Linked DNA regions of Homo sapiens: region 2 is linked to region 1. The links come from fine-mapping of genetic effects on gene expression. A gene starts in region 1. The other region holds a variant in brackets. All regions are shown on one strand. Distances are from middle to middle. Region 1 holds the start of HOXA10 (homeobox A10). Region 2 has its middle 72 kb from the start of SKAP2.

Region 1 (5,375 bases):
GCCAGACACCTCAGCGCCAACAATGGGACCTCGGCCTTCCGGCTAGGTTTGCCCCAGGCTGGGCAGGAAACCAGCTCGGCCGAAGACAGGGGCCATTTCGAGCAGTGGGACCCCAAGACAGCAAACCCAGCCCAGTCAGGACTTGACACTTAGGACAATATCTATCTCTATAGAATTTTAGCATGATATGGCTTTTTCCCCCAGAAAACAACAAATAAACCAGCACCAAGCAAACACAAAGAAACAAAAAGTCAGAACAAACCAGCCCTGCACAGATGTAACGGCCCAGGAGATGGCGAGTGTGGGAGGGAGGAACAGGGCTCCAGCACAGGTGCGAGTTCCTGGGCAGAGCCTGAAGACAGAGGGAGGGGACCAGCGCTCGGGAAGTGAAAAAACCGCGTCGCCTGGAGATTCATCAGGAAAAATTAAAGTTGGCTGTGAGCTCCCGGATCCGGTTTTCTCGATTCATTTTCTTCAGTTTCATCCTGCGGTTCTGAAACCAGATTTTCACTTGTCTGTCCGTGAGGTGGACGCTGCGGCTAATCTCTAGGCGCCGCTCTCGAGTAAGGTACATATTGAACAGAAACTCCTTCTCCAGCTCCAGTGTCTGGTGCTTCGTGTAGGGGCAGCGCTTCTTCCGACCACTCTTTGCCGTGAGCCAGTTGGCTGCGTTTTCACCTTTGGAATTGCCTGGCATGTAAGAGAATAAAGAGGGGATGATTAAGTCGAGGCCACACGGGCTGCCCGCGGGGGTGAATTGCCTCCGTTTCTCCCATAAGAGAGATGTCCCAAGTCACAGAGAAGAGAGTCGTGCCCCCGTTTTTGGCTTGCTGAGAGCAAGCAGTTCCTCCAAAAGTCATGACAAAAATTGAGTGGGCCTTCAATCTACATGACCCTTCCAATTTACATTTCCCCCACTTTTCCAAACACCTGTTTTAGCGCTAAGCCGTAGATGCTTGCAGAAGGAAAGGCCTGGGAGGGCAGGCTGTACATCTTGAACTTAACGCTTTTCTTTGCCTCTTGCCATATGGCAGACAAGCATTTCCTGTAGCCCCCAGGCTAGGAGCGCGGGGTGCTTACTTGGAAGATGGGCCAGGCAGCTTGGCTGTCTCACCCCAGGGCCCTGATTGCCCAAGACTCGATAAGGGGAGAAAGAAGGGCATCATTGGTCCAATGGGGAAGGCAGGAAAAACCGATTCGGGGGTCAAGGGCCCTCCCTCAAGTTTCTCCAGGAGCCAGGGATAGATAGCTGGGCGATTCCGAGGTCCAGGGGAAGGGAAATGGCCCTTCTCTGGCTCTCAGCTCAGGGCCCCCCGCTTCCAGGCCGGATTTGCCTTTTCTTCTTCCCGCAACGAAGATTCCCGCCCCTCAGCAACTTTGAAAAAAGCATGGGGGATCGTAAACTCGAACTTCGCCGGTTAATGGGCTTATTTATTGGCGCTGGCGGCTGCTTATTTTGGATGCCTTACAAACATCCGCGCTATCTGCGGGCGAGCTACTTTCCCTCCCTCCCCCTCCCCCCGCGTGGGCCGCGCCGCGCAGGCTGGGCAGGGACCAGGGCTCTGGGTCCTCCCGGCCACAGGAAAGAGCGCACAGGAGGGGGCCTGCTCGCTGGTGTCCTCGTCCCTAGTCAGGGGGAGCTGAGGCCAGCGCCGAGGACGTCTTGCTGTGGGGCGCTAAGCCGGACATGAATTTTACTGCGTCCCCACGCCCAAATATTAAAAAGCAAGTTCACAAGGTCAGCCTGCCTGCAGCTTGGGCCAAGGCCGGCCGGCTGCTGCGCGGGCTCCTAGTTTTCTGATCCTTCTCCTCCTTGTGTCTGCCTGTCTGCCCGCCTGACTGCAGCCCTCTGCAGCCCTGCTTACCCAGGGAATCCTTCTCCGGCGAGGCTTTGCTGCTCTCGGAAGGGGCCGGGGAGAGCTCCTCCGCGGCCGAGGACGACGCGTGCGCCTCCTCGTCGCCCTGCGAGCCCCCGCCGCTGCCGCAAGCCAGCGTGGGGGGCGGCGGCGAATCGAGGGCTCGCTCCTTCCGGGCCGCATCGGCCGAGCCGGAGGCTAGCGCGGGCGGGAGATCGAAACCGCGCCCCGGGGGCTGCGCGGGGAACGGGCCAGCCCCGAGTTGCTGCGCGCCGCCGCCGCCGCTGCCATAGCCCTTGGCGGTGCCGTAGGCCTGAGAAAGGCGGAAGTAGCCAGGCACTGGCACCCCGCTGGAGGTGCCCAGGGCGCAGCCGTCGGGCGGCGGGCCCCGCGGGAAGGGAGCCAGTTCGGCGGCGGTGGCCGAGACTTTGGGGCATTTGTCCGCCGAGTCGTAGAGGCAGTAGGAGCTCTCTTCTTTGATGTTCTGCGCGAAAGAGCACGAGGTGGCCTGCGGCGCTGGCTGGGGTGGTTGCGGCGGGGGCGGCGGCTGCTGCTGGGGCGGCGGCGGCGGCCCGTCAGGCGGCTCCATCCGGCAAGACCGGGGCGCGTCTAGCCACAGGTCTATGGGCGAGGGCCCGTAGCCGTGCGCCCCGGGACCTAGACCCCCGCCACCGCCACCGCTGCCCGGCGACGCTGCCTCATTGCGCTTGCCGCCCAGCGTGGGGAAGAGCCCGCAGCTCTGCAGCCCGTAGGGCAGGTCGGCGGCGGGCGGCAGGTAGACCCCGCCGTGGGCGTAGTAACCGCCACCGCCGCCGCCCCCCGCGCCACCACCACCGCCGCCTGCCTCGCCTCTGCCCGAGCTGATGAGCGAGTCGACCAAAAAAGAGTTCGCGGCGGGGCTCTCCGAGCATGACATTGTTGTGGGATAATTTGGCGAAGGGAGCAGATAGCCCTTTCTGGCTGACATTTCTTGTGCAAAACATGCTGAATACGATTAGCAATCCCCCCGCACCGCGGCGGGCGCCCGCAGCCAATCCCGAGCCAGAGTTTCCGCGCGACCACTCCCAGTTTGGTTTCGTAGGCGCGGGGCCGCTCTCCGAGGGCGCCCTCAGAGCCCGCGATTGATATAAATATGTAATCTGTATTGATGGGCCAGGAGACGCACCCCGACACCTTGGCCCGAAGGCCGGGAGCTGTGGGGGCTGCCCCAACGTGGCTGGTGGGGGGCCTGGCCATTGGGCTCGCCCCGCCCCTACCCGGACGTGAGCCCCATACCGGGGTCCCTTAGAAGGGCCCTTGGGCCCCGCGCAGTTAACAAGTGGGGTGTTTATGGTGCGCGCCCAGTCTGCCTTGGGTGCTCACCATCCCTGTCGCAGAAGCTGCCACTAGTCCCCGGTGTACTCTAACCACTGAAGCGGCCGTGTCGGGGACTCACGCGCTTCCCATTCAGCTCTGGATCTGGAACTGGCCCCTTGTCTGAATTCTGCCTCCTCAAAAGTGGCGAACCTGGCCCTATGGCCGTCAGGATCCTCAGAGTGTCAGGAGCCCAGAGTGAACTAGAAGCTGACTTGCCTCTACTTCCAGTATCCACAGATTTTTCCCCAAAATGCAGTGGTTGTTCCCTAGCCCCTAACCCCCAACACTTTTCTCCCCTAGTCCGTTGATCCAGTTAGGATCTTCTCCTCTGGTGTTGTGCTCACCCGGCTTGCCTTCTCTACAACTCCTGTCAGTGGACTTTGGTGGGCTGGCGGGACTGGGGGTGGGAAGCGGCTGCCAGCCTTGATGGAAAGACGGCCCCACTCCCACTCCCAAGGCCAGAGCCAGATCCAAGCATCCCCTCATCACCTAGGGAAGACTCTAAGCCCACAGTCATTTCGGGGAAGTAAAATGCTGGCCTTGGGGTCCTTGGCTGGCCCAAAGTGAGAGACTTGGAGGGGTGTGCCCGGTGTACACCTCCGCTGCTTTATGTTCCTGCTCTCCTGTTAGCTTTGGCACTCATATGCTCCTGGAGGCTACAACAAGAACCAGTGTCACTACACTCCTACCTCTCTGTCCCCTCCCCTCTTCCCCTCCCTCCCATACCCTCAGCTAGGGCAGTCCTTGCTCCTGCAGTGTGTGCATTTTAACGAGGCCTCGGTGAGGAAATCCTTTCCCTGCAAGGCCGGGCTGGGCTCATGGTCCTGTTATAAGAGCATGTGGAGGTCAGGCCCTTTGCTCAGCAGGCTCAGGGGCTCTGTTTTAGCCAACTGGAAATGGCCGGCCTGGGGTGCTAGCCCCCAAGTGTGAGCCTCATGCTAGTCTCAGGAAATGCAACCTTTTCCGGCCAGATCCAGTGGAGCCCGGGAGGTCGCTGCCTTGCCCCTGGCCCGTGGGCTACAGGTCTCCAGGATACTCTAGGCCTGCCCGCCCCTCCGGCCCCAGTCGGAGCTGGCATTACTGAACGCCGGCATCCCAGGAAATAGACCGCTCAGGCCGCTGCCTTCAGCTGGGAAAGACTCTTGCATCCGGGTCATACGCGGCACTTTGCCTCCTTCCTCCCAGTGTGAATCCAGCCCAAGGTGGAAGAGGAGCCTGAGAGGACCCTGAAAGCGCAGAGAGAGCTGGCTAGGTAGAGCTCCAGCTCTGGCTTCTGAGATTCAAGCAGCTGCGGTCGCTGCGGGCAGTGGCTGCTCCGAGCTCCGGGCCCAGAAGGCCGCTCCACCGCTAGCGCGGCGCTCCAGCCACTTCAACCTCGGCGCCCCACGGTGACCCGGCCGTAAGGACTGAGCATCAGGGTGCGGAGGAGGAGGATGGAGAGAAAAAGAGAGAGATAGAAGGAGAGACGGACAGAGGGAGAGAAAAGAGAGAGAAACAGGAGGGGAGAGAGAATAAGAAAGCCAGTTCTCTCCAGCCTGACAGGGTCTTGAAGCTGCAGCAGCGGCTTTAGAGGGATCAAGACAGGGTCTGTGCCAAGAGATCATTAACTCTCCTTCGCTCTTCGCATGCTCCTGCGCCCAAGGCCAAGGCAAATTCTCTACCCTCTAGGCCCATGAGACGGACGAACCTGAGTGCAGAAAAGCTTCAGAGCACCGCAGCCAGTGGCCCTATCTTTAGCTTCCCGGATCTGCCTGGTCCTTACCCTGCTCACCAGAAGGGTGGAACTGGCTGGGACTGTTGCCCTTAGCAATGCCACCTGGAAATGCCACAGAGCTGGGGGCTGCCTAGGAAGGAAGCTTTGCTCTTCAGCACTGCCCATGCCTCTCAGAAAAGCTGTGTCATTTGGCAAGTGGGTCCCAAGACCTTCGAGGTTTCCTCAAGGATAATGAGCCGTGGCAGGTCAGTGGGCCAGGACCTGGGCCTAGAGTCATGCCTCTCCAGGCTAAATGCAGAAAGCAACTTCCCAGGCCGACATCTGGGAAGGTCCAGTATATATTTGAGATAGTGGAGGCTATACAAATAAAGTAAAAGACAATGATCTTAACCTATCTTTCCTAACCTTTTAGGGAGTCAGGACCCTTCTGGAAAATCCAAGTAAGTTTT
Region 2 (5,375 bases), 240 kb before region 1:
CTAGAAAGCCCCATCATCTCAGCCCAATATCTCCTTAAGCTGATAGGCAACTTCAGCAAAGTCACAGGATACAAAATCAATGTGCAAAAATCACAAGCATTCTTATACACTGATAACAGACAAACAGAGAGTCAAATCATGAGTGAACTCCCATTCACAATTGCTTCAAAGAGAATAAAATACCTAGGAATCCAACTTACAAGGGATGTGAAGGACCTCTTCAAGGAGAACTACAAACCACTGCTCAATGAAATAAAAGACGATACAAACAAATGGAAGAACATTCCATGCTCATGGGTAAGAAGAACCAATATCATGAAAATGGCCATACTGTCCAAGGTAATTTATAGATTCAATGCCATCCCCATCAAGCTACCAATGACTTTCTTCACACAACTGGAAAAAACTACTTTAAAGTTCATATGGAACCAAAAAAGAGCCCGCATTGCCAAGTCAATCCTAAGCCAAAAGAACAAAGCTGGAGGCATCACGCTACCTGACTTGAAACTATACTACGAGGCTACAGTAACCAAAACAGCATGGTACTGGTACCAAAACAGAGATATAGACCAATGGAACAGAACAGAGCCCTCAGAAATAATGCTGCATATCTACAACCATCTGATCTTTGACAAACCTGACAAAAACAAGAAATGGGGTAAGGATTCCCTATTTAATAAATGGTGCTGGGAAAACTGGCTAGCCATATGTAGAAAGCTGAAACTGGATCCCTTCCTTACACCTTATACAAAAATAAATTCAAGATGGAGTAAAGACTTAAATGTTAGACCTAAAACCATAAAAACCCTAGAAGAAAACCTAGGCAATACCATTCAGGACATAGGCATGGGCAAGGACTTCATGTCTAAAACATCAAAAGCAATGGCAACAGAAGACAAAATTGACAAATGGGATCTAATTAAACTAAAGAGCTTCTTCACAGCAAAAGAAACTACCATCAGAATGGTAGTTCTGTAGGCACCCTACAGAATGGGAGAAAGTTTTTGCAATCTACTCATCTGACAAAGGGCTAATATCCAGAATCTACAAAGAACTGAAACAAATTTACAAGAAAAAAAACAAACAACCCCATCAAAAAGTGGGCGAAGGGTATGAACAGACACTTCTCAAAAGAAGATATTTATGCAGCCAACACACACACGAAAAAATGCTCATCATCACTGGCCATCAGAGAAATACAAATCAAAACCACAGTGAGATACCATCTCACACCAGTTAGGATGGCAATCATTAAAAAGTCAGGAAACAACAGGTGCTGGAGAGGATGTGGAGAAATAGGAACACTTTTACACTGTTGGTGGGACTGTAAACTAATTCAACCATTGTGGAAGTCAGTGTGGTGATTCTTCAGGGATCTAGAACTAGAAATACCATTTGACCCAGCCATCCCATTACTGGGTATATACCCAAAGGATTATAAAACATGCTGCTATAAAGACACATGCACACGTATGCTTATTGCGGCACTATTCACAATAGCAAAGACTTGGAACCAACCCAAATGTCCAACAATGATAGACTGGATTTAGAAAATGTGGCACATATACACCATGGAACACCATGCAGCCATAAAAAATGATGAGTTCATGTCCTTTGTAGGGACATGGATAAAGCTAGAAACCATCATTCTCAGCAAACTATCGCAAGGACAAAAAACAAACACTGCATGTTCTCACTCATAGGTGGGAATTGAACAATGAGAACACATGGACACAGGAAGGGGAACATCACACACCGGGGCCTGTTGTGGGGTGGGGGGAGGGGGAAGGGATAGCATTAGGAGATATACCTAATGTTAAATGACCAGTTAATGGGTGCAGCACACCAACATGGCACATGTATACATATGTAACAAACCTGCACGTTGTGCACATGTACCCTAAAACTTAAAGTATAATTAAAAAAAAAAAAAAGAAACTTGGAAGAAAAGAGTTGAGGAGGCAAACACCCAGCAAGCAAAATATATAAATATCTGGCTTCATACTGAACCCCTGAATACTAAATGTGAAATTTTAAGAACCAGTATAGGGGATATGTACTACATACAGCCAAAT[G/GT]TTTTTTTTTTTTTTTGAGATGGAGTCTTGCTCTGTTGCCCAAGCGGGAATGCGGTGGTGCCATCTCGGCTCACTGCAACCTCCCTGGTTCAAGCAATTCTGCTGCCTAAGCCTTCCGAGTAGGTGGGATTACAGGCGCCTGCCACCATGCCCAGCTAATTTTTGTATTTTTAGTAGTGATGGGGTTTCTCCATGTTGGCCAGGCTGGTCTCAAACTCCTGGCCTCAAGTGATGCGCCTGCCTCAGCCTCCCAAAGTGCTGGAATTACAGGCGTGCGCCATTGTGGCCAGCCTCAAAATCACTTTTAGTGCTTTATGGATAAGGAAACAGGCACAGAAAAGTTAAATTACTTGACAAAGATCATAGCTAGTATGTAACAGAATAGACTACAAACAGGTGATCCTCCAAATTTAGTGCTTTTTATTTTGACTGCAACACAATGTTTCTCTTAAAAAAATGTTGATTCAATATAGGGTATATAAATATATTACACATGTAATAAGATATTTATAGATATGTCAGTTAAACTTTCATATCTTTCTCTTTAGCATAAGAAAGTACCAGGTTTACTGTAAGTATAAGAAAAACAGGCTGGGCGTGGTGGCTCACGTCTGTAATCCCAGCATTTTGGGAGGCCGAGGTGGGCAGATCACAAGGTCAAGAGATCGAGACCATCCTGGCCAACATGGAGAAACCCCATCTCTACTAAAAAGACAAAAATTAGCTGGGGGTGGTGGTGCGCACCTGTAGTCCCAGCTACTCGGGAGGCCGAGGCAGGAGAATCACTTGAACCCAGGAGGCGGAGGTTGCAGTGAGCCAAGATCACGCCACTGATCACGCCTGGCAACAGAGCGAGACTTCATCTCAAATAATAATGATAATAATAATAATAATAAAATGGAAAAATATACATCTCAGGAAAAAATTTAAATAATTTTAAATGAGAAACCTAGGATTTATCATATGAACCCTATTTATGTTTATTCTTAGTCACATTGATTCAGTTGAAAAAAGATGCTTCATTTATGACATCTAAAATTCCAACCCATAATCAGAAGCAGCAGAATGGTCATGGTGAAAATATTTGCCCTACATCTGTGTCTACTTAGGGTTGCACATCCAAATCTGCTTGGCATTATTTGTTTAATTTGGAGAAAGGACACCTAATTTTCTTGTTTCCTCATTGACTAAACTGCTGTATACAAGAGAATGGTTTCTGCATTCAGAATGAGTTCCTACATGATTAAGAAACCAATTCAAAGGAATGCTTCTTAAACCTGCAGCAACTTAGCAACTCATTATTATTAATATTTTCATTAAACCATTCAAAGCTTTCTTGATATAAACACAATTTTCTTTTTCTAATCAGTCAGCATATCTGAACATTATAGTTTGTTTGGTTTTTCCAGAGTTCTGGTTGGTTGTTTGCTCTGGGGAATTTGGCCTCTTTTATAAAGTTAATAGTTTGGAAAAGGTACTGTAAGAAAGCTTCTAATGGTGCAATGAGTGTGTTTAACAAGCATTTCCAGGAAAAGATTTTGGTAAGTCACTTGTATGTTTCATCCATAGAAAGCCAAAAATCTAAATGTCATAAACATATTCCTGAACATTTGATAAATGCTATAAATTGGACTGATTGAACTATATAAAATATTCGTAACATTGTTCTACATGTAAATGTATTCCAAGTTCCAGTTTAACTTGCCAGGAACAACCCCTTGGCTGAGAATCTATCTTGTGACCCAGTAGGGAAGCTCTCTCAGCAAGAGGGAGATATTCTTAATAGTTAGTAACCTAACTCTAAATTTGAAAATAGGAAGGAAAATCTTTGGGGCACATACTCCCCTAAAATGATACATATTGTGACCAAAGAGTGATCTAGAAAGAGACTTTCCACTCACTCCCATGAAAAAGTTGTCAGAACTAGACTGTCCTTACCCTTAGGTGTGCACTGCAGCCCAGACTACTCCTCTGAGTCACATTCTAGCTTTCTCTTTCCTGTAACATCTTAACAAGCATTAGCCTGTTAATCATTTTCTAGGGATAGTTCTGGGGCTGGAAGCTGCTGTAAAATAAAGCAATTTGGGGAAAATCTTAAAGATTATCTAGACCAGAGGTACCCAAACTTTCCCAGGTCATAGCACTATAAATGTCTTAAGTAATTTTTCATAGTGCCCCTAGGCCAAAAGAAATAACTAACAGTCTCATTAATTAAGTAGTTAGGTCCAAATACTTAGTAAGTATTTGGGTTCTGATAACTTAGGAGGTGGTCTTACACACACACACACATAGCCACACAAACAAATTAAAACCAAATCATATTTTTACTTAACTTCTAAACAGCCACAATTACTTCCTAATGAGATATGTACCCCTCTTCAGCACTCACATCTCAAACGCTGGAATTAAACTGCACTCCCTTCTTTCTCGTTCTACACTGATTTCTACATAGTACTTGTTTTTATCATAGCAATGACCAAAAATCCAGCTTTACAAAGAGATGGCATTGAAAGACATGTAGTGTGAGCTAATGTTGTGAACTATTGCAAGCTGTTGTTTTGCCTGGTGTCTGAAAAACATCAAGTATCATTCTATTTCCCTTGAAATTTTAAAATGTCCTGCAACACCCTTGTGAGTTAACTGTAGCACCCCAAGGCACCTTGGTCACAGTTTGGGAATTGGGAATCTAATATCCTATTTCATGGACAAGAAAAGTAAGACCAAGAATAGTTAAGAAAATTTTCCAAGATTATCCAGCTAATTAGGTTAAGTAAAAAACAAGAAGTCCTGTTTAAAATACTGAGAATTTAGCCCATGTTCTTAAATTTAACTGGATCCCACAGATCTTGATTCTGCAGAGCAAACCTATGGACATGAAACTAACCCCACCTCCCAGGGCATTCCTGTCTTTGCATTCACTACTAGATGGTCCTCAACACAGTGATTTTTTTTAAGGTGAAAGGAGTTAAGAGAGCTGCATAATAGCACAGAATTAATTATAAGAACCAAGAGTAGCACCTGTCTTCAGACCCTTCATTATGGCTTTTTTTTCTTTCTTTCTTTAGGTGAAGTTTCACTCTTGTCGCCCAGGCTGGAGTGCAGTGGCGTGATCTCGGCTCACTGCAACCTCCACCTCCTGGGTTCAAGCAATTCTCCTGCCTCAGCCTCCCGAGTAGCTGGGATTACAGGCGCCTGCCACCATGCCCAGCTAATTTTTGTATTTTTAGTAGAGATGAGTTTTCTCCATGTTAGCCAGGCTGGTCTCGAACTCCTGATCTCAGGTGATCCGCCCGCCTCAGC

What was found. PIP is the estimated chance that this variant, and not a neighbour inherited with it, causes the effect. A credible set is the group of variants that fine-mapping cannot tell apart.
Region 2: its variant is the best candidate, but not a certain one, in a credible set for the expression of HOXA10 in whole blood (INTERVAL, PIP 0.57).

What each region holds. Positions count from the first base shown.
Region 1 is chr7:27,171,484-27,176,858 of GRCh38, forward strand. HOXA10 (homeobox A10) reads right to left here and starts at 2,837. Exons shown (of 2, transcript NM_018951.4): 1 at 1,866-2,837; 2 at 1-690. The coding sequence starts at 2,823. The coding sequence ends at 416. The region is part of intron 1 of HOXA10-HOXA9 (HOXA10-HOXA9 readthrough); the gene reads right to left. It overlaps HOXA10-AS (HOXA10 antisense RNA), which reads left to right. Exons shown (of 3, transcript NR_046609.1): 3 at 1-432. RefSeq lists enhancers at 37-536, 2,245-2,891, 2,892-3,537.
Region 2 is chr7:26,934,340-26,939,714 of GRCh38, forward strand. No RefSeq gene overlaps it. Among named protein-coding and RNA genes, the nearest start is that of SKAP2, 72 kb to the left of the region's middle. The variant G/GT (reference allele first, on the strand shown) is at 2,076.